Homo sapiens: one gene and its partners. The protein of the gene in region 1 purifies or fractionates together with the protein of each later gene. This does not show direct contact. Each region holds a gene or a part of one and is shown on either strand. Other genes may lie near its edges.

Region 1 (7,027 bases):
TCATTTTGATAATAATCTTATATTCAGGTTCTTGGTAGTTTTCTGGATATGATTTTATTCTATTAGATCACCAACTGATAGAAATTTCCATATAATGAGCTGTCACATCTTAGCATTTACAAAAGATCTGGACATTTCATCCAGTCTGACAACTTATTTCACTGTGGTGGAGAAGTCTTTGTTTTTCAGCTTCAGACTTCCATTGCTAAATAATAGTTTTTTATTTGAAATAAACATGTTGCCATTTATCCCTACACTTTATATGTATGAATAATCTTGACTTTTAAATTAGTTTAAAAATCGGTTAAAAGTTAAAAAACTAAAAATGTGATTTGGAGGACATCAGAATAATGATATATTTCTGATATGTATTTGTGTACATACTTAAAGAGAAAGATGCATGTTAAAACTTTCACAAAACACTTGTACTTCCTCTGTTTAAGGCTCTGAGCTAGAAGTAGTAGGATTCTGAATAGGGCAAGCCTATATTGGACTCCATCCAAAGGTTTGTATATATTGAAGTATCAAAAGAGCCTTCATCTTTTCATCTTTCATGAATGGTTTTACCTCTAAAATGGTCCCATTACACAGACCTAAGAATAGAATTTGAACGACATGTCATTTTGTTTTTGTTTTTTTATGAAAATCTGTAGCTTTCTTGGCCTTTTGAAATGGTAACTGGGTAGAGCATTTCAGTGTATTATTAAAAACTTGATAACTTAGAGCAAAATAGACCCGTTACTCTAGAAATCTTATTTTTGTGACAATTCCATATGTAGAGCTTAATCGTGTAATTTTTGTGATGTTGCTGGTTTGCCCCTTTGAAGCTTGACCTCAGAGATGATGTGGTGAAAATTACAATCGATTGGAACAAGCTCCAGAGCCTCTCGGCATTCCAGCCTGCATTGCTCTTTAGTGCACTTGAACAACACATTTTATATTTACAGGTAAATTTCTTGTTAGAAATGATAACCCGATATTGAAAATAGAAATTGATTGTGGTTAAGTTAGTTGGAGTATTTGACAGTTCTAAACACTATATTAATAGTGTTGCTAATAAAACGTTATTTACATCCGGATTTAATCTAAATCTGTTAATTTCAGTAGTGATCAGGACAGTTAAGGGAATATAGCCCAAAAGACCAATGTGGGTATGAGTGAATGAATGCAATTCTATTCAATTCTAGACCTGCACTGAAAATTCAATACAGTTCCATCTATGGTGGGTTATAATTAAGCAATAAGACACGGCAGGTGTGTGTCATGCTATGATAATGATTCCATGCCTTGGGTGAGTTTGGAGGCTCATGGAGTGCTTTCAGTGGTTCAAGAAGGGGCATTATCCCAGCATGACACATCCTGGAGTGTCTATTGCAATTAAACAGTTTCAGCATAGTTTTTAAAAAGAAAGTAATTTCTATGACATTAATGTCTCATCTTAGTAAGTAGCCAGTCACTATTTTATCATTTCTTTTCCTTAACAGTTTGAAATAATTCATTCTTTATATTAGAAGTTAATATTGAATTGGTATTTATAATAGTGTTGTTATATTTTTAAATATTTCATGTTAATAACTGAACAGTATTATGACCTTGCTGGTTTCTAATTGAACATCTTTGCAATTATAATTGATGTAAGTTTGCAGTTTATCTCTAATCAAAGTGTAAAATGTGAAGTGTCAAAAAGATAAGTGGAAAAACTGGATTGGTCAGTTTACTGTGATTAAGGTGTTATAAGATTTCAAAAGAGTAGTATAGCGAACAATGGAAGCAAAATTGTAGGTATGAAAAAAATAATTGGAACGTTATTAGTGTTAGTGTGTTTTGACTAATGGAATAGGCATTAATTTTCAGCCCTCCATTCATTGACTTTGTGGGAAATTTTAACTGTTTCATGTTAAAAGTAATAGTTAACCCTGTTTTTAAAGGGCAGAGCAGTGAGCTCTAGAACTCAAATGAGACCTCATTGTGGGGAGTGGGGGAGGGGAACAGTAAATGAGTAATATAGTTTAAATTCTACAACAGGGGTTTTCCCCCTGTAGTATAGTGATAGGCCTCTGCCTGTTTTCAGCTATAGATCTTTTTTTTTTCTTGTTCGTTTTCTTTTTTAAAATTTAATTTTATGACCAAAAGATATCTTGCCATGTCAGGAAAAGTCTGAGTGTTCACTCAGCCTAACACCTATATATTTCATGTCTATGCTTCCTCATTCACATTGGCCAACTGCAGTTTCAAGTGGAGAATCTCCAGTGATACAGTGATAATGCAGGGCTTTGCTGAGTGAGAGCACTAGCTCTCGTGTTAAGGAGGAAAAATACTAAGCCTTAGTGTTCTGAGGAGGCATTTGAATGACATGTTAATTAAGTGGCATTGGTGCCAGAGGCTGAAGGCTTTGATTTGGCACAAAATAAAAGATGAGTGACAGAATGATTCTCTCAAAGAAAATTTTAAATTTCCTTAGGTTTTCTTTTCTTTTTTCTTTTCTTTTTTCCTCTCTCCTTTTTTAAAAAACAAATTTATAGCAAATGATAATGGTTACAATAGCAGAGAATAGTGAGTACTTATATGTGGTCAGATCTATGTGTCCTGGTATACCAACTTTTTATATTTATTAACTGATATTAAGTATTTCATTTACTTAGCAGAAATTTATGTAAATATATTAAGTGTGTAATTAATTTTGGTCAGATTGAACCTCAGCAGATGGAATTGTGTTGTTCTCAGCCTTTTTTAGCAAAACTTCAGTCTCCGATTAAAGAGGAGAATACAACTGCTGTTGAAGAGATAGGAAGAACAGAAATGGGGAACAAAAATGAAGTAAATGACAAATTTTCCATTGGCGACCTACAAGAGGAAGAAAAGCACAAAGAAAGTGATTTAAGAGATGTGAAAAAGACACAGATCCATTTTGATCCAGAAGTAGTTCAGATAAAGGCTGGAAAAGCAGAAGTAAGAAGGTTTTTTGGCGGGGGCGAGAGGGTATTATTTTAAAAAATCTTATGTTTACACTGTTAAAACTTGTTGTTTGTAGATTGACAGACGAATATCTGCATTTATTGAAAGAAAGCAAGCTGAAATCAATGAAAACAACGTCAGGGAATTTTGCAATGTTATTGATTGTAATCAAGGTAACTACCTGGAAATTAATTTTCATAGGGTTTTAAGCACAATTTTTATAGTTGCTCTAATCTTTTATTTATTTTTTAAATGAATAGCTTTTAGAACACAATTCAATTTATTTCATGGATTTAGTTAGTAATTAAGACAGTAGAGTTTCCTTCTGCTTAATAATAGACTATATTGCAAACTGGTTTTCATTTTGGTTACACAAAGTAAATGCTAACATTAAAAAGTGTTTATCACAGGTGAAGATTATTTTAAAGTTCCTTTAGGAAATGAAGGTGAGGTACGAGTGAGAAGGTTGATCTATCTCACTAGTAAAAGGAACTGAGCTCTATGAATTTCAAACCTATACATGTACTGTGAAATCATGATGTTAATACGTAAGTGAACTTAGTAAAGTTAATATTCCTCCAGAGGGAGCAGTTTTCTCACTACTCCTGAGCTGTTTGAAATGTCCTGTGTCACGATACAACCAATTTATCATGAAGACCATGGTGTCTTGCTTTTTTCCTTTCTGCCATAGTGCATACATTTGCTGTTTTTCATCTGATTCACCTTTACCTCTCTACTTGATGCTATAGTACATTTACAAATCTGCAAGTATGCTGCAGAATACAAAATATTGCAATGCAGTGCCATAGATTATACTCAGGCACCATAGTAATAATCAGAACAAGTAGTTCTTAGGAAAAATTATGGAGAAGAGTTCATAATTGGAATGAACATGTTTCTTGTTGCCTCTAATATCTCATGGCTAATTATTATGAACATAGAATTGTCAGATGAACCTAGAAATGACTCATATCACATTGGTACACTGATTCTCTTAATGAAATAATATAGGCTGGTATTGGGTCCTGAATTTAGCTGTGTGCTACTATTAACATTACACATGTGCATCTCTAAATTTGGTATATTTTCCTGTTAGCTTTTCAGAACAGGTGCAACAATGGCAAAATCTCAGGTACTACAACCAACTACAAGCGACTATGAGAAAGGGTTTGTTGAGAGAGCAAGCACATGTGTCACTAATGTTATTCCTCTGTTCTCCCTGCTAACTCTATTATTATAAACCACCAGGGGATAGAAATTGACGAGAATTGAAATGCTCAGCAGGATTCCTTGGCCCATTCAATTCTTTGCTGGCTCAAAACAGTGCTAGCAAGAATTGCTGTGGAGAGTGACTAGCAGTCATACACTCACACCATGCTGAATTTCTCACTGATGGTCAGTTAATCTATATGTTTGGAATATAGTTCTGGAATGGATGATAGCTTCTTTTTTTAACCCTTAGCCCCATGAAATGGTAGGAAGAGAATGGAGAAAGGATGGCCCTTTAAGCATATTTTGAGGTGCCTCCAAAAAAAAAAAAAAGGAGGAAAGATGTCTATTTAGTCTCTAGATATAAAAGCTAAGTGGATTTGGAATTTTATGCATACTATTTGATTTATCAACAGAACTACTAAGGAAAGTTCAACTGAAAAAAATACAAATGTATTTTAATATGTTAGTGTGTTCCTTTTAATACCTACAAATTTAACCTAACTATAAGCAGTGGAATTTTTAAAAATCAAATTTCATAGGGGGGAAAAAATAATTTTTTTTAAAGAATCTCATTTACCAGCCATTTTTTACAAAATATTCAGGGGAATTTTACAGGAGATTTACTGCCAATGTGTGGCCTTTAAACATTATTTCAAACATAAGTATATATTATTACTATGTAGTATCGTATGTTAATATATAACAATTATGTTAATTAGTTGTATTATATGTTAACATCTTTCCAATTTTCCCCTTTTGTAATTTATGCATTGATACTTAATTTGAAAGAAACTACTTTTCAGCTTGGAAAAAAATAGGGACAAATTTTCACAATAGACCTTTACTAAAATGAAACTTTTTTGAAAAGTGGTGGGATAAGAAGAAGTAGATGACTTTTGTGATGAAGGGTTTTTAAAATGAGCACTGGAAATCTAGGTAGAGTGGAAATGTATGTGTACTTGAGGTTTTGAGGTCATCTTTGTGTGGAGTTCTGAAATAAAAATGTTAAATAATTCTTTTTGTTGGATGTTCACTAATTTGGTCATTAAAATAAAAAATGCTGAATTAAAAGAATTCTAGTAAAAATGATGAGTTTTATTTCTACGATGAAGTAGAATTTAAATACTCTATGGTAGATTATTTTCTCCAGTGGCCCAAATAGTGACATTGGTTTTCAAAATTGTATCAATTTGTGCCACTTAATGTTGATGGCTTTTCTGTATATAAATCTGAACATTAGGTAAGAATATTAGATATTATGATAAATTTTGACAGGTAAAGAAGGTCACTAAATTCTATCCTATGTGTGATAGTAATTTATTGTTACTATTATTTATTAAAATTATTATGAGTAAAATGTTAATATGAATTATTGAAAGTTTATTAAAATCTCATACATTTGAAGGGAAGAATATATTTAAACTTATATTTATCTAAATTCTCCTTAGAAAATAGTTGTGCAAGAACTGATGCGATTTTTACCCCTTACCCCGGATTTAAAAGTCACGTAAAAGGTAAGTAACCACCACATGACATCTGAGTCACTGACAGAAGTCTAGATTATTAGCAAAATGGAATAGAAATAACTTTCCCATCTAAATTTTATTTTAAAACAAAAACATCTTGCCGTCCTTCATACTTGTGGTTAGATGGTCTTTATGAAAAAAATATAAAGTGCTGTTAAGGAATAAGAATTTCTGATTTTTGAAATACAAATGTATATAGGCTCAAAAGTTTCTTAATTTAGTTTCTAGAGTTGTGAATACATACGGACCACAGACTAGACCTGAAGGAATTCCAGGGTCAGGTCATAAACCTAACAGCATGCTTCGAGACTGTGGTAATCAGGCTGTAGAAGAACGACTACAAAATATTGAGGCCCACTTGCGGTTACAGACAGGTAAGCAAAGTGCTAAGTGGCACCTCATAATGAACCTTTGCAAATGGTTAAAAAATTGCAGTTCATTTAGTCACCAAATTTTCATTTAGCTCCTAACATTTCTTGAACAGTAAGTGCCAGTCACTCAGGAAGTGTTATGTGTATGTCAATTCACTTAAAAGGTCATAGTACCCTTTTGAGATGGTGGTGGTGTTATCACTGTACAGATAAATAAATTGAAGTTTAAAGAGCCCAAGCAAACATGCCTAAGATACTAAGTGACAACTCTAAAAAAAAAAGAAAAAAGAGATAGTCCAGTCTTGCCCAGGTTGTACTTGAACTCCTAGGCTCAAGTAATGCTCCTGCTTCAACCTCCTGTGTCAGTGGGACTACAATCATGTGTCACTACTGCACCCTGCTCAAACCCAAGTCCTCACTGGGTGCAGAGACTGAGTCTCCCTCTCCATTTAGTCACCATGTCTGTTGATTCTGTTTTCTAAATAAATATCTCTCAAATCTGCCCACTTCTGTCTTATCTCTACTGCTACTACTAGAGTTGAAGCCACTGTGATCTCTGGCTTGGACTGATGGAAGGATATTTACTGGTTTCTTTGCCACTGGACTCCTCTAGATCATCTCTACCCTGTGGCCAGATTGCTTTTTCTAAAGCTCAAATTTGATCTTGTTTCTTCCCAGCTAAAAATGTGGAGATTGGGATTGAAGGGGGTTTGTAATTTTAAATAGTATTGTCCACATCTGTAGTTCCAGCTACACCTCTGGGCTTCCCATCTCCCACTCGTTGTGCTGCTTTAGGATCTTTATACTCATGCCCTTCTGTCCATGCTTTTTCTTCCTAATCCTAGACCAGTGCAGATTCACCTTTTGTATAATCTTATATAGCACCTGGTATTCCCTGCTCCCCTTTAAAGCAGTTATCATGGTTCTGTTTGTTTAATGTCTGTCTCCTGCTAGATAGTCCGT
Region 2 (7,027 bases), on another chromosome or scaffold:
TAAGGATTACCAGGAGTGGGGAGGAGGCACAAGAGAACCCTCTGAGATGCTGAAAATGTCCTACAGCTTTATCTAGGTGGCAGTTGCATAGATGTATACACATGTAAAAATTAATTGCGCTATAAACATGATTTGAGCCCTTTATGTGTAATGCAACTAAAAGTTTTTTTTAATGACTCCTTTTTATCATGTTGAGATACTGTTGTGTGAACCGTCTTATATAAACTGGTTGGGGGACTTCTAAATCTTTTTTTTTTTTTTTTGAGACAGGGTCTCACTCCATTGCCCAGGCTAGAGTGCAGTGGTATGATCTCAGCTCACTGCAATCTCTGCCTCCTGGGCTCAAGCAGTCGTCCCACCTCAGCCTTCTGAGTAGCTGGGACTATAGGTGCAAGCCACCACGCCCTGCTAATATTTGTATTTTTAGTAGAGACCGGGTCTCACCGTGTTGCCCAGGCTGGTCTCGAACTCCTGAGCTCAAGCGATCCGCCTGCCTCAGCCTCCCAAAATGCTGGGATTACAAGGGGGAGCCACGGTGCCCAGCTGGACTTCTAAACTTTCAAGACAGTCAATTTCTTAACTTTCTGACACATTTGGCACCTTCTATAGCCTGAGTAGGTGTCTCTTTCATCTTTCTTCAACAGAGAATTCTATTGGGCCAGCACAGTGACCAGTCTTGATTGTCAACTTTAAAACAATCAAGAGCATGTATATGTCTGTCCTGGGCCAGTAATAAAGAATGCTTATTTTGTTTACTTTATGGCCTGCACAGGTTCAATGGACTAGAAAATCCTTTGAACATACCTCTCAATTGGAGTACAATAAATTTCAAACGACAGCAGAATGCCTAAAACAAATGTAATCCTCTCAAGAAACCATTTGGAAGAAAAGCGACCCCCTCTACCCCATGCGAAAGTTTTGGAAGAGGAGGCAAAATGGTGCATAGGAAAGAGGATCTACTTGGGCAGACGCTTTCATGAGTAACCACTGTAGCTTGAAGAAGTCACTTAACCTCTTTGAGTCTCAGTTCCCTGCTAGTAAAATGAACTCCCTTACCTTCCACTTTCCCCGGGTAGAAGAATCAAATGTCGTGAGACATAACACTTTGGCAAACACACAAACTGCTAATACCAATGGAACGTTTTTTACAAATAAAATTAAATAGACATTTGTGGAATGCCTAGGTTCCAAGAACTTTCATATATCCTGAAGTATTTAATCTTCACAATAAGTCAATGAGGTGGCACCTGGACTCCTACTTCACCAAGGAGGAAACTGAAACTAGGCAGTTAAGGCGATGCCCGGCCAGGCGCGGTGGCTCACACCTGTAATCCCGGCACTTTGAGAGGCCAAGGTGGGCGGATCACGAGGTCAAGAAATCGAGACCATCTTGGGCAACATGGTGAAACCCCGTCTCTACTAAAAATACAAAAATTAGCCGGGCGTGGTGGCGGGGGCCTGTAGTCTCAACTACTCGGAAGGCTGAGGCAGGAGAATCACTTCAACCTGGGAGGTGGAGGTTGCAGTGCACGCCACTGCACTCCAGCCTGGCGACAGAGCAAGACTCCGTCTCAAAAAAAAGAAAAGGGGGGCGCTGCCCAAAGGCACCCAGCATAGAGGGAAAGAAGCAAGGATTCCCCTCCTTCTCTCCCCATGTGTGAGTAGCCAATGTGCCTGTTCTAATTCCCCGTTTGAATCAGATGACCACAGCAGAAAAGCAGCATGCAAGAGTAGGAAACTGTTGACAATTTTTCCTAAATAGCCACTTTTCTCTTAACGACAGACTAACTAAATCAGAAGCCACTGAGCCTTGAAAATCCTAATTTTATTGGCACTACACGGAGTATTCATCTGAGAAGCAGATGTGCTGACTGCTCCCAGGCATCTTACAGGAAAGTTTATATTTCACCCTCCATAGTCACCATGATGGATCAGACCCTATGGATTTACTTAACAACCGCAGAATTAAATCTGGCTAACACCGAGGCAACTGGGTTTAAATCTGCCAGATGATTTTTAAAAACAAAACAAAACAAAAACCTTAAACAGCGCTATATCACAAATCGCTATTTCCAAGCACACACTTCCTAAAACAAAACAGTCCTCAGCAGATTTTGCTGTTTTGCCCTGTAAAACACTTTCTCAGTTATATAAAACTACAAATTGCAATCTGAAGGCTTTGCAGGCTTGAATTTCCATCTTCCCTGAAAATTTCTGAGGATACAGAATTAAATTTGGACATCTTTCTCTCAGGCTTTTTGTATTGTGCCTGCCAAATGAAACATTTTTTCCTTTGTATGCTTGGCTTTATGACACTTACCGCATTTTAGAGAAGTCACCACAGGATACAATTGTATGCAATAAACTTATGTGGCTAAAGACTGATCTTTTAAAACAACATCTTATCCACCTCCCTCCATGCTTTGTACTTTGCTGTGACAATATTGCCTATCTGAAGCCTTGCCAAAAAGATATTTCTAATTTAGTTTCTGTTTGCAAACCAACAACCAATTTGATACAAAATATCACTTTAAAAAGGTATTCATGGGCCTTGTGTGGTGGCTCATGCCTGTAATCCCAGCACTTCAGGAGGCGCAGGCAGACAGATCACTTGAGGTCAGGAGTTTGAGACCAGCCTGGCCAACATGGTGAAACCCCGTCTCTACTAAAAATACAAAAAAATTTAACAGGGCATGGTGGCACTTGCCTGTAATCCCAGCTACTCAGGAGGCTGAGGCAGGCAAATTGCTTGAACCCGGGAGGTGGAGGCTGCAGTAAACTGAGATCACACCACTGCACTCCACTCCAGCCTGGGTGACAGAGTGAGGCTCCGTCTCAAAAAAAAAAAAAAAAAAAGGTACTCACGGCAAGAGGAAACTTTCGGGGATGGAAGAAGTCATAACACTGGGTTGTGGTGATGGATGCACAACTGCATACATTAACTCAAAAGCAGCATAGTTACAGTGGGCAAGTTTTATGATCTATAAATTATACCGCAATAAAGCTGTTTAAAATATATGCCCATGATTCACGAAGTGAGATTTTTCAGATTTTAAGTGTTAGTCATATTCATATTAAAAGCATTGGTTTAGGCTAGGCGTGGTGGTTCATGCCTGTAATCCCAGCACTTTGGAAGGCCAAGGCAGGCCAATTGCTTGAGCCCAGGAGTTCAAGACCAGCCTGTTAAACATGGCGAAACCCAGGTTGGCGAAACATCTCTATAAAAAATACAAAAATTAGCCGGCCATGGTGACGTGCGCCTGGCCAAGTAGCCTCCCAGCTACTTGGGAGACTAGGGTGGGAGGACCACCTGAGCCCACTGCACTCCAGCCTGGGAAGCAGAGTAAGACCCTGCCTCAAAAAAGCCTCAGAAAAAAAAAAGGGGGGGGCAAAACAAAAACCATTGATGTTTTTTCTTTCTGTGCTGCAAAGGTATTTGTCTAAAACAGGCTTTCTCAACTTCTGTTAATTCTATTAATATTTTGGACCAGATAATCATTCGTTGGGGGGAGTTGTCCTGTGCATTGTGGGATGTATAGCAACATTACTGGCCTCCACTCACTAGTTGCCAGTTGCATTCCCTCCTCCCAACTGCAAAGATTGAAAATGTCTCCAGACATTGTCAAATGTCCCTTGGGAGGTTAAATAGCTCCTGGGTGAGAGCCACTGCTCTAAATGCTGACAAATGAAAAAGACAATTTGCTCTCTGGGGGAGTGACTGACAAATACAAAGGTGTTGGGGGCGCTCTCCAACTATAAGGCTTGTTCTAGTGCCCCACCCACCAGCCCTTAGCCAACAGAGGATGCTTTTTGTTTTGTGGTGGCACATCTACCTCTGCTCTCTGTATATTCTACAACCAGTGCTACTTCTAGATTATAAATCATTATTATTATTATTTTGAGACAAGGTCTAGTGCAGTGGCATGATCTCAGCTCACTGTAACTTCTGCCTCCCAGGCTCAAGCCATCCTCCCACCTCAACCTCCTGAGTAGCTAGGGACTACAGGCACGCACCATCATGCCCGGCTAATTTTCGTAATTTTTGTAGAGACAGGGTTTCACCATGTTGCCCAGGCTGGTCTCGAACTCGTGAGCTCAAGTGATCCGTCTGCCTTGGCCACCCAAACTGCTGGGATTACAGGCACAAGCCACCATGCCCTGGGCCTATTTTTTCAATTAAGACTAATTTTATAGTCCTGTACCCATGAAACTCCTTAAATGTGGCACCTTGCCGAGAACCCAAGCAACTGGGTTCTCCATAAATGCTTTGTGGCCACTGACTCTGATATACGAGTAAAGCACCAGGCAATTCCGTTTATTTAGCCAGCATTAACCTAGCATCTTTATGTTCTAGGAATTCTGGGGACACTTTTTTCTTTTAACTTTAAGGTTGAAGTCATGATCACCACTTTATACATGCAGTCATTGAGGCTCAGAGAAAAACTAAGTGACCTGTGCCTAAGATCACACAAGTGGCAGAGCTGGGGTGGATTCAGGACTGAGTCTGTTGCTCTTACTTGACTTTCAAGTTAACAGCGTCTCCCCTACCTTCTGAGGGCTTGCCATGGGCAAGACACCATGCTGGATGTCTAATACAGCCCATTTTAAATCCTCACTGTTATGCCATGAGGCGGGTAACATCATTCCTTTACAGACAGGGAAATAAAGGCTTAAATGAAATCCTTATCCAAGGTTGCAGAGCTGGATATCCCAAAATTTGAATTCAGATTAGCCTGAACTCTGAAGCCCATGTTCTTAGCCACTATACCCTATTGCCTCCTCTTACGTATTAATATAAATGGCCTGCTCCTTTAGGAAGGGTTAGTCAATGGGTTTTGTTTCTCTTTTGAAGTTAGTAGATGATATACTTTAATTCAAGAAGATTTGGATTTGGCCTACTCATACATTCACTTGGGGTTTCTTTTATAACATTAAAAACCCAATCCCAAGCAGGCATGGTGGTGCAGGCCTATAGTCCCAGCTACCCAAGAGGCTGAGGTGGGAGGATCACCTGAGTCAAGGAGTTCAAGGCTGCAGTGAGCTATGATCGTGCCAGTGTACCCCATCCTGGGCAACAGAGCAAGACCCTGTCTCTAAAATAAATAAATAAATAAATAAATAAATAAATAAATAAATAAATAAATAGGCCAGGTGCAGTGGCTCACACCTGTAATCCCAGCGCTTTGGGAGGTGGAGGCAGGCAGATTGCTTGAGCCCAGGAGTTGGAAACCAGCCTGGCAAACATGGCGAAACCCCATCTCTACCAAAAAAAATACAAAAATTAGCCAAGTATGGTGGTGCATGCCTGTGGTCTCAGCTACTCAGGAGGCTAAGGTGGAAGGATCACTTGAGCCTGGGAGGTACAGGTTGCAGTGAGCCAAGATCACGCCACTGTACTCCTGCCAGGGTGACAGAGCGAGACCCTGTCTCAAAAAAATAAATAAATAAATAACCCAATCCTATCAATATCTGTGGGACACCTAGAACTGTCCTATATGACAAATCTCTACTTAGTTGTCAAGAAGTGATTAAGTTAAAATTCCACAACTGCTAACATCACAGCTAATCATTTCTTCCATTTTCTCTTCTCTGGTTCATTCGCTTAGTCAATAACCGCATGGCTAAGAATCTATTCAAAGATTCTAAATGCACATCAAATAATCATACAAATCATAAAAATCATAATATAAGCACCAGGAAGAGTACAGATGAATTTGGATAATTTCTAATGGGAAGGCTGCTCAGGGGGGTAAAGGAAAGGCAAGGAATCTGAGTTCTATAGGAAGGGTTGGGAGTTAATTTTAAAATGTGGAAAGAAGAGCTTCCAGTCCCAGTGAACAGCATGTGCAAAGCCCCTCACCCCACCTCACCCCCGACTAGGTGAAAGGAAACCATGTGCCTGAACCCTCGATAAGGAGCCACAGATAGCAGTAGCCAGGCCATGCAGGGCCTTGTGGACCACAATAAAGAGAAATTAAAGGGCCTGAAGTGTGGGTATAACATGGTCAGATCTACTTTATTTTATTTATTTATTTATTTTTTTTTTTAGGGAGAATCTTGCTCTGTCACCCAGGCTGGAGTACAGCGGTGCAATCACAGCTCACTGCAACCTCTGCCACCACGCCTGGTTAATTTTTTATTTTTTGTAGAGACGAAGTCTCACTATATTGCCCAGGATGGCCTCAAATTCCTGGACTCAAGTGATCCTCCCGCCTCGGCCTCCCAAAGTGCTGGGATTACAGGTCTGAGCCACTGCGCCTGGCCTAGATCTACATTTTTAATGAACACAGAACCAAAATGACTCTGAAGCAACCTTTACCAGGACACAGTTCAAAGATCTGGATCCTGCGAAACAAGTTTGTTTGTTTCTTTTCTTTTTTCTTTTTTTTTTTTCTTTTTCTATTCTCTGGGGTGTGGCACGTCACCCTGGCTGACTTAGCTCCCTTCTTTTTTGGTTTCGTTTGTGAAGTTTAAAGGCCAGATTTATATCAGGCCTGGGACCTGTTTTTCTTTCAAAAGCCCCCCAGTGAACTACCTTATCTCTTTCTAGATCCCTCCTCATTCTCTAATCTCTCTAATCTAACTTGCCAAGGGGCCTGTGGCAAAGGTAGAGCAATCTGTCCTTTTGGGCTTGCTCATATTAAGTGCAGAAACAAGCTGAGAGAGAACCACAGATTTTGCTCTCTTACACTCCCTCGTACCCAATCAAGTCCAGTTAAATTTTTTTTTTTTTTAAAAAAAGCAAATCTGAGATAATGTCACTCTCCAGGTTAAGATTCCTGCACTCCTCAGTGCCCTCTTGGCCACGCACCCCAGCCGGTGGCCCTAGGCAACAAAGGTCTGGCTCAGTTGGCCCACCTCCAAGCTTCCACAACTGCTTTCAGTTTCTCCACTACAAGAAGCTTCACCCCACCCCACTCTGCCCTGCCAAGAGTTCTTAGCAGCCACTGACACTTCCTCCAGGAAGCCAATCCCACCCTACCAGTGCCCCAGTCTATGAACTGTCCTGCTCTGGGTCCGCAACTAC
Region 3 (7,027 bases), on another chromosome or scaffold:
ACTGGAAGATAAAGGAGATAAGAACTTTGAAATTAAGAGAAACTTAGGTTGGAGTCCTAACTTACTAGCCGTGAACCTTCAGACATCATTTACGTTGAAGTCTCTAAGCTGCAGTTTCCTTTTGTATAAAATGTAGTTGATATTACCTATCTTGTAGGGTTGTTGGTGAGGGTTAAATAGGTAGTATATGCAATGTGCCTAGTACAGTATCCGACACATAGTATTTACTCTAAAAATAGTAGTTCCTTTGTGTGTAGTGAAATGTGACCAGGATTTGAGTCCTGGCCTTGCCACTCTTAGTTAGATGAACCTCAGTGGACATGTTACTTTTCAATTCTGAGCCCACATTTCCTTTCCCTTTTTTAAAAAATGAAGTTACAGTACTATTATGTATTTCACAGGATTGCTGAGAGTATAAAACCAAACAAAATAAAATAATGTGAAGGCATTTTGTAAACAGTTAAAAAAAAAGCATATACATTAAAAAACAAATTTACTCAAATATTTTGAAATTAATTTAAAAATTCCACAATTTGCGTGTTATTTGGCTATATCAAAGGATAGGTGTTGTTATTTTCTCTCTGACAAAAGCCTTGTCTTATGTGCAGATGATAAGAGGACGCTTGTGTGATGATACCAAACCTGAAACATTTAACCAGTTGTGGACTGTTGAAGAACAGGTAATAAATATTTCAAAATCGTGTAGGCTTAAAAAAACAAGTAAACAGTTAACATCAGAGTCAGTATTATGAGGCCAGGTCCAGTGGCTCACGCCTGTAATCCCAGCACTTTGGGAGGCTGATATGGGTGGATCACTTGAAGTCAGGAGTTCAAGACCAACCTGGCCAACATGGTGAAACCCTACTAAAAATACAAAAATTAGCCGGGTGTGATGGCGTGTGCATATATAATCCCAGCTACTCGGGAGGCTGAGGCAGGAGAATTGCTTGAACCCAGGAGGCAGAGGTTGCATTGAGCCAGGATCATGCCACTGCACTCCAGGCTGGGCAACAGAGTGAGACTCCATCTCAAAAAGAAAAGAGCCTGTATTTTGAGTCAGGTGTATATTGTTGTATGTGATGCCTGTTAGCCATGAGTTTTAAATATTTAGGCTTATTTTTGTATACCTTTTTGCATACGTCAAGAATTTTGGATTTTGAGAATGTGTAAACTTTTGTTTGGGGATAATTTTAAAAGAAGGAACCTGGGTTTTGAGAGGGGAGTAGAAGTGGATAGAATAAAATAGATGTTTTTGTAATGTAGCTTTGGGAGAGAGAAAAACCTGAGGCCAGTAAAGCTGAGCTTCAAAGTGCATTCTTATTTTTGTTGTCGAAGGGAGGTGAGGAAGTCAAGTCAGTTTTGGCATACAGTTTAGAATTGTTTTTTGGCTAATGGCTAGGGTTGTTAGTGGGTGAAGTTTGAGGCACATCTTTGTCTCATATGGCTATTAACCCCACAGCTATACATTTAACAGTTTATAAAAAGCTTTGGGAAATCTATTTATTTCAAGCATCCAGATTTTTCTGCATCTTTAGGACTATGAGAAGATACAGGAGACAAGAAGGAATATTAAAATCAAATATTTGAATAAAGGACCATACAAAAGAAGGAAAAGCCTCTTTTAATAGTCGAAATTTAAGTGAATTTACACGTTTTTGTTAAAACTGTAGGGGAAAGAAAAGTAAGAAAAGATTGACCATCTTTTCTTGGATTTCAGTGGATTTAGTGATTTCAGTGGAAATCACTAAAATGTGTAATCTACCAATTTGTTTACTTATTTTCTGTTTTCTTATGAGATATTTTTACTTATGTGAATAGAAAACTTTTCTAAGCTCTTTCATAAGTTTATTCTCTAATTTCATTGTTCCCTGTGAAGTCTTAAGTTTCTAACTAGAAATTTTTCCTACCATGAGGATTTCTAATTACGTAACCCCCAAAGGTGGGAGAGAGTATTACATTTTGAAATGAAATGTGAATGTATTTATTTAGAAATCCAATATTTAAAATTAAATACATATTTTCTTAAATTTGGTCTTGGGTATGGCTTAGAAAAAGCTGGAACAGCTACTCATCAAATACCCTCCTGAAGAAGTAGAATCTCGACGCTGGCAGAAGATAGCAGATGAATTGGGCAACAGGACAGCAAAACAGGTAATTGAGGAGATGACTGCAGATTGCTGGTATGCTTTTGGTAGTTTTTTAATAAAGGAGAATAATGCAGCTGACATTGGGCGATCTGCCATAACACTTTCAGCTACAGAGTGCTGTAGTATGTGGTGTTTTTTTAAAAAAATTGTATATATTTTCGTTGATTTCAGAAACAACTTGAGATACTTCTGCTTTGGATCATTACGAAATATTAAAAAATGAACATATAATGGACTTAATTTCTCTTGAATGCTTACTAAATATACTAATTGTATACTTTTTGGTTATACTGAGCAAACAGATTTGTTTCATTGCCTTAGTGTTTCCTGGTTGTCTTTCTAAAAATGTATCTTGCAGTTTACTCCTTCATATTCCCATCTATATTAATAGATGTGTTTTTATACTACAAATGTAAGTGTTCACAAGTTGAAATATGTGTTTAGCTTTAGAATCAAATTTAAATTTACTTGAATAATTTTTGTTTGGCCTAGATTTTAAAATATATGTGTATTTGGTGGCAGTTTATTGTTAATTCTAGATTCATGATGAGTATTGAATTCTTAGCATTCATTAGATACTCATGTACGTTTTAATTTTTAAAAACGACTCAGGTATTGTATGTCATCTCATTGTGTTAAGAGACTTGTCATGTTTCCTTAGGTTGCCAGCCGAGTACAGAAGTATTTCATAAAGCTAACTAAAGCTGGCATTCCAGTACCAGGCAGAACACCAAACTTATATATATACTCCAAAAAGGTAAAAGAAAATACATGAAAGTAAACTGTAGATTAAATTTATTAAAGTAAGAATTGCTATGTAAAAATCTACACATTTGACAGAATAGTGTTGTATTTTAAAACTTCTGTTCATTCTAAGCATTTCCTTATATTGTGCAAAAGTGGAGGGTAAGGACTCCATTATTGCTGCTCAGTGAAATTCATGATTCTTCATTATTTTCTTTGGAGTAATGTGAATGAGTGCTACTTGAAAGATTTTAGATTCAAAATATGTTAGAAAGGCCTTTGTGAGGGTAAAGTTTTTAGGATATTTGATTATTTAATAAATCAATCATTTAATAAATTTAATAGATCAATTTCTGTTTTGTAGATAATGCTACATAAATCCAAGAATAGAAAGGTTTATTATGATATTCTAAAGCCAGGCACAGTGGTGTGCACCTGTTGTCCCAGCTACTTGGGAGGCTGAGGCACGAGGAACACTTGAGGCCAGGAGTTTGAGTCCAACTTAGGCAACATAGTGAGGTCCCGTATCTTTAAAAAAATAAAATATTGTATTTAATCCTTTCTACAATTCTTGAAATATAAGTAGTCTTATCATCTTCACTTTACTGACATAATATTAATAGCTAGCTGTTATATTGAGGGCTCTGAGCCAGACTCTACTGTTCTATAACCTTTTATTTGGTAAGGAAACTGGGCCCTCAGGTATGTTGAGTGAATTATCTAGTTGCTTAGCTGCTAAGTCTGGGAACCACTGATTCTCTCCCATTCTGATGCCACACTTTTTCCACTTTTCTCTGTTGCTTTCTACAGTGGAGAAGCTACTGTTTCTTTCCCAAACAGGACACTACATTAAAATGTAGCCAGTTTCGGCCGGGCACGGTGGCTCACGCCTGTAATCCCAGCACTTTGGGAGGCCGAGGCGGGTGGATCACGAGGTCAGGAGTTCAAGACCAGCCTGGCCAATATGGTGAAACCCCGTCTCTACTAAGAATACAAAAATTAGCCGGGTGTGGTGGCACGCACCTGCAGTCCCAGCTGTTCGTTCTTGTAATCGCAAAAAATAAAGACACCTAATTGGCTGTTTTAAATTTTCTTAATAAGTTATCCTGTTACTTTTCCCTCCCCACCACTGACATCTTTCTCATAAAGAGAAGCTAAGAGTATATCTAGTGCTGTTATCCTTCCATACTGAAGCTATTTCATGTAATTTTACATTAAGAATATTGTCTATACAGTTTCATGTTTTACACATTAAAAAAAAATTTTTTTTAACCGAGCTTTGGAAGCTTGTTTTAATTTGCCAATTGTTTTAAATATTTTGGGTTTCCCACCAAATATAGCACAACCTGTGTAGATTTGTAGAGTTCATCCTATAACTGTGGAATATTGGAACCTTACATTAACCTGTGTTTAATGTAAGAGCTCTTATTTTCATGGTTAATTTCTAAGCTAATTTTATAGATGTAACCATGTTTTCATCATTAACACTGGATAATGATAACAAAAGGAATACTGGAGAACGTACATGTGTTTTTTTCCCTTAGGTGTACTGTATTTTGGCTGTGAAGATCTAGTACAGCTATATTTACAATGATTGCTTGCCATTGTTAGAGTTTAAATTTGGAAACAGGTGAAATGATGGTTCTTCATGTAGCTGAGGGTGTTCTTTGTGACTGTGCTATTGATCAAGACAGGCAGGCTGCATAGTGGTGGAAAGTGAGAATTTGGGCACCACATAGGCCTAGTTTATAATCCTGGTTCTACCACTATCTAGCTGCAACACACTGAACAAGAAACTTAACCTCCCTGTCCTCAGTTTTCTCATTTTTAAATTAGAGGTGATGATAACTACGTTATAGGAATGTTGTAAGGATTAAATGACATTGGCATAGAGCAAGCTTGTCCAACCCATGACCCACGTACCACATGTGGCCCACGACAGCTTTGAATGTGGCCCAACACAAATTGGTAAACTTTCTTAAAACATTACAAGAAATTTTTTTTTTGTTGTTTTTTTGTTTTTTTTTTTAGTGTGAGTGTATTTTATGTGTGGCCCAAGACAATTCTTCCAATGTAGCCCGGGGAAGCCAAAGATTGGACAACCCTGGCATAGAATAAGCAGTCAATCAATGTTAGATAAGTATTTTCAGATATTCATAATGTTATAGAAATTTTCCTTTTACTTTTTACTGGATAGTTTTATGTCTGGCATAGGCCACTTCATCCTGTCTGATCTTCTATAAGATGATCATAAGAATTCAGTGCAGCCAGCATTTGACTGCCAAGAGTATGATAAATGCTGGGGATACAAATATAAGCTAGATATTAAACATGTGGTCCATTTTACCGTTGTTGGGGTATTTCCCCTACATTTAAAAAAAATTTTTTAAAGCTAGTTATGCTTTAAAAACGCAGAAAACAGAAAAAGCAACAACATAAGAGTATGCTAAAGGATAGAGTGAAATTCTTCTGATAGACTTGTTGGAAGTAACATTTGTATTTTTATATTTTTGATTCTTGTAATGATTTTTCACTGAACCAATTAAAAATTTGTTTTCTTACTTAGTCTTCAACAAGCAGACGACAGCACCCTCTTAATAAGCATCTCTTTAAGCCTTCCACTTTCATGACTTCACATGAACCGCCAGTGTATATGGATGAAGATGATGACCGATCTTGTTTTCATAGCCACATGAACACTGCTGTTGAAGATGCATCAGTAAGTTATACACATCAAGTTGTTATATACATCAAGGTATAGAAGAGAGTAGGATTTTCTAATTATTTCCACTCTTCAGAGAATGTTGGTTTCTTTTAATGAACAAGTCAAATGTATAGTTTTTAAGTAATGTACTTTTGTGAGGAAAATTTCAAACATATACAAAAATAGAATAGTATAATGAACCTTAACAATTATCAACATGAAGCTACCTTATTTTAATCTCTACTCCCTACCCACCTCAACTCTGCTCTGGATTATTTTGGAGCAAGTCCCAGATATTACACAATATAATTATCATGTTTATAAAAGGTAATTTGTTATACAGTGAAATATATAGTCACTGTTCATGATTTTTTTTCTAATTTCTTCATTTGGGTTTGGATCCAAATAAAGCCCATAAATCACAATAGGTTCATTCTCCCTCTTTCACTTTCCTTTTTTCCCTCTCCCAATGTTTTTGTTGAAGAACTGGTTCATTTGTCTTATAGAATTTTGCAGTATGGATTTTATTGATTACATCTTCTTGTCATTTAATCTGTTCCTCTGTTTTCTGAACTTCCTGTAAATTCATAGTAGGTCAAGAGCATTGATGAGATTCAGATGTATTTGTTTGTTAGGGTGGGCAGGACTACTTCACGTTTACTTTCATCAGCCTGGTTGTCTCTTTTTTTGGCATAACAGCCACTGATCATTGACTAAATTGATTAATTCATTAGATGTTACAGAATAGTGATTATGCTATCATTTCTTCATTTACTTGCTGGACTATTCTAAAAGTAATCCCCCTGCCCCCTAGTCAACTATTTGGTTACTCTGAGGTACATATAGAAAAGGTGGGATAATTGCTCAATTCTCCCTTTTTTTTCTTTTTCTTTCTTTTTTAGGCAGAGTCTCGCTCTGTCGCCCAGGCAGGAGTGCAGTGGTGCAATCTCGGCTCACTGCAGCCTCTGCCTCCCAGGTTCAAGTGATTCTCCTGCCTCAGGCACCTGAGTAGCTGAGACTACAGGCATGTGCCACCATGCCCGGCTAGTTTTTGTATTTTCAGTAGAGGCGGGGGTTCACTATGTTGGCCAGGATATTCTCGATGTCCTGACCTCGTGATCTGCCTGCCTCGGCCTCCCAAAGTGCTGAGATTATAGGCGTGAGCCACCATGCCTGGCCTGTTTTCTGGTTTTTAAAATAATGAGTTCATTTTCTCATATCCTTCAAAGATGACCAATGAGGTTTAAAAATTTTTTGTATTCTTATGAACTATTGGCCCTAAATGTATTTAATGTATTTCAATTCATTGATGTTACTGCCTTTGTTAGTGTTCAAAGTGGCCCATCTTTGGTTTGTTGTAGCCTATTTAAGTTGGCTTATAAGTTCTTTTGATAAGACTCTAATAGTGTTTAATAGCTTAATACCCATTTTT
Region 4 (7,246 bases), on another chromosome or scaffold:
CACCCCCACTCTACTACACATAGGGTAACCATATATTGTATCATCCAAACTAGAATGCTTTTGAGAGTAAAAAGGGGACACTAGCCTGGGCGCAGTGGCTCACGCCTGTAATCCCAGCACTTTGGGAGGCCGAGGCAGGTGGATCACTTGAGGTCAGGAGTTTGAGACCAGCCTATCCAACACGGTGAAACCCCATCTCTACTAAAAATACAAAAAAATTAGTTGGGCATGGTGGCATACACCTATAGTCCCAGCTACTCAGGAGGCTGAGGCCTGAGAATCACTTGAACCTGGGAGGTTGAGGTTGCAGTGAGCCAAGATCATGCCACTGCACTCCAGCCTGGGCAACAGAGTGAGACTCCTTCTCAAAAAAAAGGCGGGGGCACTAATAATAGTTATGCCAGGGCAACAGGCAAAAACTGGGGCTGTCCCTGGCAAGCCCAGATGCACGTCATCCTTCCCATCCCCCTTCCTGCTGGATTTATCTCCTGCTAGCCCCTGTCAATGACACATTTTCCTTATTTGTTTATTGCTGGTTTCCACCCACTAGAATGTAAACTCCATGAGGGCAGTAATAATTATTCTCTATTTTGTTTACAGCTCTGTCCCCAGGGCCTAGCACAGTACCTGGCCTATAGTAGTCACTCAATAAATATTTATTAAATTAATTGGTGAATAAATCACTGAATGGGCATCTGGTGCTGGTGGGTGGGAAGTGAAGAAGAGGCCATAGGTTCTCTTTCAGGCTCAGAAAGGGCTAAAAAGTAGACCCCTCCCTCCCCTTTACTGCTTGGCTGTTCTACCCAGAGCTCAGCTGCATATTTTGCAGCCAGAGGTCAAGGCCCCAAAGGGCCATGCTTGGTGTAGTCACCCCAGGCTCACAGCACCTCTCCTCCAGCAAGAGAAATCCTTTGGGACCAGGCCACTGTCCTTGTTCTTTCAGCTCCCAGCCTGTCCCCAGTGCCAACCTGCCAGCAGCCATGTGGAGCTGCTGGTCCTTGTCCAACCCAATCCTACCCTGTGTCTGTTCTCACTGCCTGGAACCTGAGCACCCTCCCTCTCCACCCCCTGACTGAGCGTTCCAGCACCTGAGAATCTCAATGAAGATGAAGATATGGGAAAATGAGACATGAATTTGACTGAAGCATAAATAGGCACAAAACTTTGGGAGGGTAGTTTGGCTGAGGAGTCGAGTTTCAAAGTGCTTGTCACCTACAACCCAGCAATATCACCTGTAGAAAGATGTCCTCAGAAACATTCATGTGTGCAAAGATGGCTGGATAAGCCTGCTCACTGCAGCACTGTTTATAAGAGACAACAAAACAAAAAAAAATGAAACAAAACTGGAGAAGTAACATTGTTAAAATGTCCTACAGATTCCATGTAATTCTTATCAATATTCCAATGACATTTTTGTAGAAATAAAAAATTCTAAAATTTATATAGAATCATAATAGACTCCATATAGTCAAAGCAATCTTGAGCAAAAAGAACAAAGCTGGAGGCATCATATTGCCTGACTTCAAAATATACTACAAAGTTATTGTAATCAAAACAGCATGTCACTGGCATAAAAACAGGCACATAGACCAATGGAACAGAATAGAGAGCCCAGAAATAAATCCACGCACTATAGTCAATTGAGTTTCATCAAACATGCCAAGAACGCGTAATGGAGAAAGGACAGTCTTTTCTATAAATGGTGTTGGGACAACTGGATATTCATGTGAAAGAATTTAGACTCTTATCTTACATCATATGCAAAAATCAACTCAAAATGGATTAGACTTAAATGTAAGAGCCAAAACTATAAAACTCTTATAAGAAAACAGGGACAAAATGTCATGGCATTGGCCTGAGCAACGATTTTTTGTGTAGGACTCTCAAAACACAGGCAGCAAAAGTGAAAATAGACAAATGGAATTGCATCAAACTAAAACGTTTCTGCACAGTCAAGAAAAAAGAAAAAAAAAGAGTGAAAAGACAAACTACAGAATGGGAGAAAATTTTTGCAAACCATACATCTGATGAGGGGTTAATATCCAAATATATAAGGAATACAATCCAATAGTAAGAAAGGACAAAACCTGAATTAAAAGTAGGCAAAAGATCCAAAGAAATCTTTCTCAAAAGAAGACATAAAAATGGACAACGGGTATATTAAAAAAAAATGCTCAACATCACTAATCATCAGCGAAATGCAAATTAAACCCACAATGAGATATCACCTCTGACCTGTTAGAATCGCTATTTTAAAACATAAGAAAGATAATAAGTGTTGGCAAGGATGTGGAGAAAAGGGAACCGTTGCACCCTGTTGATAGGAATGTAAATTAGTACAGACATTATGGACAACAGTATGGAGGTTCTTCAAAAAAAATAAAAATAGAACTACCTTATGATCCAGCAACCCTACTACTGGGTACATATCCAAAGGAAACAAAATCAGTATATTGAAGAGATGTCTGCAGTCCCATGTTAATTGCAGCATCATTCACAATTCTCAATCTGAGTGTCCATCACTAAATGAATGGATAAAAATATGGTACATTTATATACACAATGGGATACTATTCAGCCTTTAAAAAGAATGGAATGCTGTCATTTACAGCAACATGGATGGAACAGGAGGATATTGTGTTAAATGAAATAAGCTAGGCACAGAAAGACAAATATCCCATGATCTCACTTATATGAGGAAGGTAAGAAAAGTTGAACTCATGCAAGCAGAGTAGAATGGTGGTTACCAGGCGGTGGGGTAGGGGGAGGGAGATAGGGAGGATTTTGAGAAGTTGGTCAAAGGATACAAAATTTCAGTTAGATAGGAGGAAACATTCATGAAATCTATTGCACGACATGGTGACTATAGATAATAACAATGGGTTGTATTCTTGAAAAATGCTAAGATAATAGATTTTAAGTGTCCTCACCCCCGAAATGATCAGTATGTTAGGTAACGTTAACTAGCTGGATTTAGCCATTCCACAATGTATACATATTTCAAAACATGTTACTTACGATAAACACGTACAATTTTTACTTTTCCTTATGTACGTCTTCATCTGGCTGTTCATTTTTATCTTTTATACTATCTTTTATAATAAACTGGCAATAGTAAGTAAAGTGTTTTCCTGAGAAACAACAAACTGGAAACAACTGTTTAGCAACAAGAAACTGCCTGACCAGGTAGAAGGACGTGGTAGCTCTGTATGTATTGATATGGAATATAGTCTGAGATAAATTGTTTAGGAAAATGAAAAGCAAGTTGCCAAAGAACCCACAGTATGATGTCATTTATGTTGGAAAAAACGCCACAACGATGTGTGAGTGTGCACACTGAATGAAAGAAAATTCTGGAAAGAAACTAACGGCCAGCAGTGTCACAAGGGGGATAGGTAGTTTATTTATTTATGTGTGCGTGTGCAAAGTTCCGTATTGTAAGAATTTGCTACAGCCTGTGTTATTATAAGCTTTGTAATGAAACAGGTAGAAACTGAAAAAGTTTAATTATTCCCAATTCAGTTTAGGTTCTGTCTCCGGAAGACTTTCCCGGATTCCCCAGCCCCCACTCCCCACCCCATCTTACCACCCCCTCTGCCAGCTCTGAGTCTCAATTTTCTTTTCTGTAAGGATTTTCATCATTTAACCTTATTTCTTCTGAATGCACTAAATGGTAGTTATCCTAGCACTTAAGAGGATGTCGGAAACATGGTTCATTGTCTGACCCTTCCGACTCTGACTTGTATGAGCACATTTTGGGGGGAATGTAGGAGTCAGGGGAAGAGGAGTTCCAAAAAGAGACTACTAGAGGGTACAGCTGTCCCGGAAGAGACTTCTGAAGAGAGCAAAGCGCGTCCGACGTTTTTCTCGAGAGGCGCCGAAGTTTTCCGGAAAGAGACGACCAACTGAGAGGTGGGCCCCCAAAGCCGGCTGCGAGAGTCACCGAAGATTTCCGGAGAGCCAAGGAGTCGGGAAGAGCCACTTACTGAGCGTTGCCGAACGTGTACGGAGATAGCCGAAGAGGCGGAAGGCGGGGCCACAAGAGCCCTTCCTGCAGGGAACCTCAGGCTTCAGAGAGCCGAAAAGTTGGGAGGCGTAACCACTTACAGGCCGGAAGTGTCCGGGGTGGACGCATTCGGGTAGCCGAAGAAGTCCCAGGATTGCCGAAGAAGTCCCAGGATTTCCGAAGCGAGCCGAAGCATCGCGACAGTTTTCAGAGACAGCTGATCGGTTGGAGCTGTTGCGCCGAGCAGTCATGGCGGCGGCCAGAGCTACTACGCCGGCCGATGGCGAGGAGCCCGCCCCGGAGGCTGAGGCTCTGGCCGCAGCCCGGGAGCGGAGCAGCCGCTTCTTGAGCGGCCTGGAGCTGGTGAAGCAGGGTGCCGAGGCGCGCGTGTTCCGTGGCCGCTTCCAGGGCCGCGCGGCGGTGATCAAGCACCGCTTCCCCAAGGGCTACCGGCACCCGGCGCTGGAGGCGCGGCTTGGCAGACGGCGGACGGTGCAGGAGGCCCGGGCGCTCCTCCGCTGTCGCCGCGCTGGTAAGGTGGGCCGGGATCCCGGCGTGGGCGGCCCCGAGGCTCTGGGGCCTGGGCGGGTGAGGGACTCCCCTGCGCTCCGAAGCTGGATTTCCCTCAGTTTCTCCTTCTGTGCCTTCTGCGGTGTCCGGCCTTTCGGAAATGTTATTCTTTCATCCCTTTTTTCATTCGTTAAGTCTTAAGAAACCACGTGGCCATGCAGCGTCAAGCTTTTGTCCTGAGGCCGTTCTGCCTGGTTCAAATCTGGGATCTGTCATTATTGCTCAATGTTGAACATGTTTAACTTCCCTGAGCCTTGGTTTCCCCATTTGACTCGTTTCAATTTTCGATCATTATCTTTCCATTTATTAGTTTTAAGAAACATGTAATGACAAGTACTTGCCCCACTGGAGCCAGGCTCCCTGGGTTGAAATACTAACTCTGCTGCTTGTGTAGCCTTTCAACAAGTTATTTAGCCTCTCAGCCTCGGTTTTCTCACCTGTAAAATGGGAGACATAGTAGCAGTATCCATGTCATAGGGATGTTGTGACCATTAGAGGAGGTATGTGTGTCACGTATTATGTTCAAATGTGTGCCTGGCACATAGTGCCCAATAAATGTTGGATTTCATTAAATTGCCTATTTTTTCATTAAACATCATTGTGCGCCAGCACCATAAACTTTGTCCTCAGATGAGAAAGTGACACTCAGAGAGAAGTAACTTGCCCAAGGTTACACGGTTACTAAGTGGCCGGTCCAGGCCCTCAGCTCCTTATGCCTCTGACTCAGAAGCCCTGGCTTTTTACTTTTACGCTTCTTGCCTTTCTTTTATCAGTATTTTTTAGGTACCAGTGGGTACCAGGACATTGTTAAGTGCTGGGAGATCTGGGTGGGGGATATTCAGTAGCCAACAAGCGGACACATTGCTGCCCTTTCAGAGACTTAAGATTTCATGAAGTTATTTGTGTATTCATATTTCTGTTTTCAGCCTCATGATCTGTTTCGTTAAGCAGAGATTGTATTATAGCTGGCTTGTTTATTGCTGTATCCCCATTGATAACATCTCTCAGTTTCTAGAAAAGTATACTGAGCCTGGTTGACTTTCAGTAAAGATTCATTGAGTTTATTGGAGCTATTGTTCCTTGTATAGTAGCAGAAACTGAGGCTTAGAGAAGTTAATGTAATTTTAAGATTAGATTAGACAACTAATAAGAAAAGCAGCTGGGATTTGAACCCTGTCCTCTCTGACTACGAAGATGAACCTCGAAGCTAGCACACTGCTTGGCCTCCTGTTTGTGTCCTCATCAGTAGAAACTGCTCTGACTGGGCTGTGCCTTGCTCTTTGTTTTTGTTTTTTGAGACAGTGTCTCACTTTGTCACCCAGGCTGGAGTGGTGCAGTGGCACAATCTCAGCTCACTGCAACTTACGCTCCCTGAGTTCAAGCTATTCTCCTGCCTCAGCCTCCCGAGTAGCTGGGACTACAGGCGTGAGCCACCACACCTGGCTAATTTTTGTATTTTTAGTAGAGATGGGGGTCTCGAACTTCTGACCTCAAGTGATCCGCCTGCCTCCGCCTCCCAAAGTGCTGGGATTACAGGCATGAGCCACCACACCCGGCCTTTGTTTTGTTTGTTTTTTAGAGAGTGAGTGTGACAAATGAAGTCCAGTGAGAAAGGGTGGTTTGGAAGGGAGGAGGAAGCTATGGCCTCCTCAGTTTAGCTGTGGGGTGTTCCCAGGCATAGTCCTGCAGTGGGCATGAGCAGGGGAATATTCCAGATGAGTTCAGTTGTACCATTTCCTGTAGCATTCCTCAATAGTCCTGAAATAAGTAGATATAGATGGAAAAACTGGCTTAATCTTTGAAAATTAAGTTTACCCGTTAAAAAAAATCCAACCCAATAACCACTTATGTCTTGATTTCAGGAATATCTGCCCCAGTTGTCTTTTTTGTGGACTATGCTTCCAACTGCTTATATATGGAAGAAATTGAAGGCTCAGTGACTGTTCGAGATTATATTCAGTCCACTATGGAGACTGAAAAAACTCCCCAGGGTCTCTCCAACTTAGCCAAGACAATTGGGCAGGTTTTGGCTCGAATGCACGATGAAGACCTCATTCATGGTGATCTCACCACCTCCAACATGCTCCTGAAACCCCCCCTGGAACAGCTGAACATTGTGCTCATAGACTTTGGGCTGAGTTTCATTTCAGCACTTCCAGAGGATAAGGGAGTAGACCTCTATGTCCTGGAGAAGGCCTTCCTCAGTACCCATCCCAACACTGAAACTGTGTTTGAAGCCTTTCTGAAGAGCTACTCCACCTCCTCCAAAAAGGCCAGGCCAGTGCTAAAAAAATTAGATGAAGTGCGCCTGAGAGGAAGAAAGAGGTCCATGGTTGGGTAGAAGAATGTGTATGACAACCACACACAGTGAAGCTCTTTTTTCAAAGTAAATTTGAAGAAATGCTACAAGTATGAGATGAGATCTAAGTAAAGGTGTTAAGATATTTTTAAGTGGTATGTGATCGTGTCATTATCATCTGCACTTCACTCAAGAGCTTACTATGTGTCTAAGTCATGTTCTAGGCAGAATTGGGTATTTAAAGTAAATTGAGGACAGGCTTCTCCCAGATTGTGACATGTATATCTCAGATACATGGGTGTGGCATTGAACCACATAATGAGAACATTATTCTCTTTTTAGTCCTTGTGAGACAAGGATGAAGTCTCAGT

The links.
Region 2: the proteins of MBIP (region 1) and KAT2B purify together in Homo sapiens (affinity purification with mass spectrometry; 6 studies listed by BioGRID and IntAct, with this or other methods). This does not show direct contact.
Region 3: the proteins of MBIP (region 1) and ZZZ3 purify together in Homo sapiens (affinity purification with mass spectrometry; 6 studies listed by BioGRID and IntAct, with this or other methods). This does not show direct contact.
Region 4: the proteins of MBIP (region 1) and TP53RK purify together in Homo sapiens (affinity purification with mass spectrometry; 4 studies listed by BioGRID and IntAct, with this or other methods). This does not show direct contact.

What each region holds. Positions count from the first base shown.
Region 1 is NC_000014.9:36,310,613-36,317,639, reverse strand, and holds part of MBIP (MAP3K12-binding inhibitory protein 1), read left to right. Parts: intron 1-827; coding exon 828-947; intron 948-2,724; coding exon 2,725-2,949; intron 2,950-3,031; coding exon 3,032-3,128; intron 3,129-5,615; coding exon 5,616-5,681; intron 5,682-5,914; coding exon 5,915-6,067; intron 6,068-7,027. UniProt on the Homo sapiens protein: Inhibits the MAP3K12 activity to induce the activation of the JNK/SAPK pathway. Component of the ATAC complex, a complex with histone acetyltransferase activity on histones H3 and H4.
Region 2 is NC_000003.12:20,043,436-20,050,462, reverse strand, and holds part of KAT2B (histone acetyltransferase KAT2B), read right to left. Parts: intron 1-7,027. UniProt on the Homo sapiens protein: Functions as a histone acetyltransferase (HAT) to promote transcriptional activation. Has significant histone acetyltransferase activity with core histones (H3 and H4), and also with nucleosome core particles.
Region 3 is NC_000001.11:77,574,651-77,581,677, reverse strand, and holds part of ZZZ3 (ZZ-type zinc finger-containing protein 3), read left to right. Parts: intron 1-608; coding exon 609-680; intron 681-2,049; coding exon 2,050-2,151; intron 2,152-2,808; coding exon 2,809-2,904; intron 2,905-5,457; coding exon 5,458-5,610; intron 5,611-7,027.
Region 4 is NC_000020.11:46,686,424-46,693,669, reverse strand, and holds the start of TP53RK (EKC/KEOPS complex subunit TP53RK), read left to right. Parts: upstream 1-4,225; 5' UTR 4,226-4,255; coding exon 4,256-4,538; intron 4,539-6,438; coding exon 6,439-6,917; 3' UTR 6,918-7,246.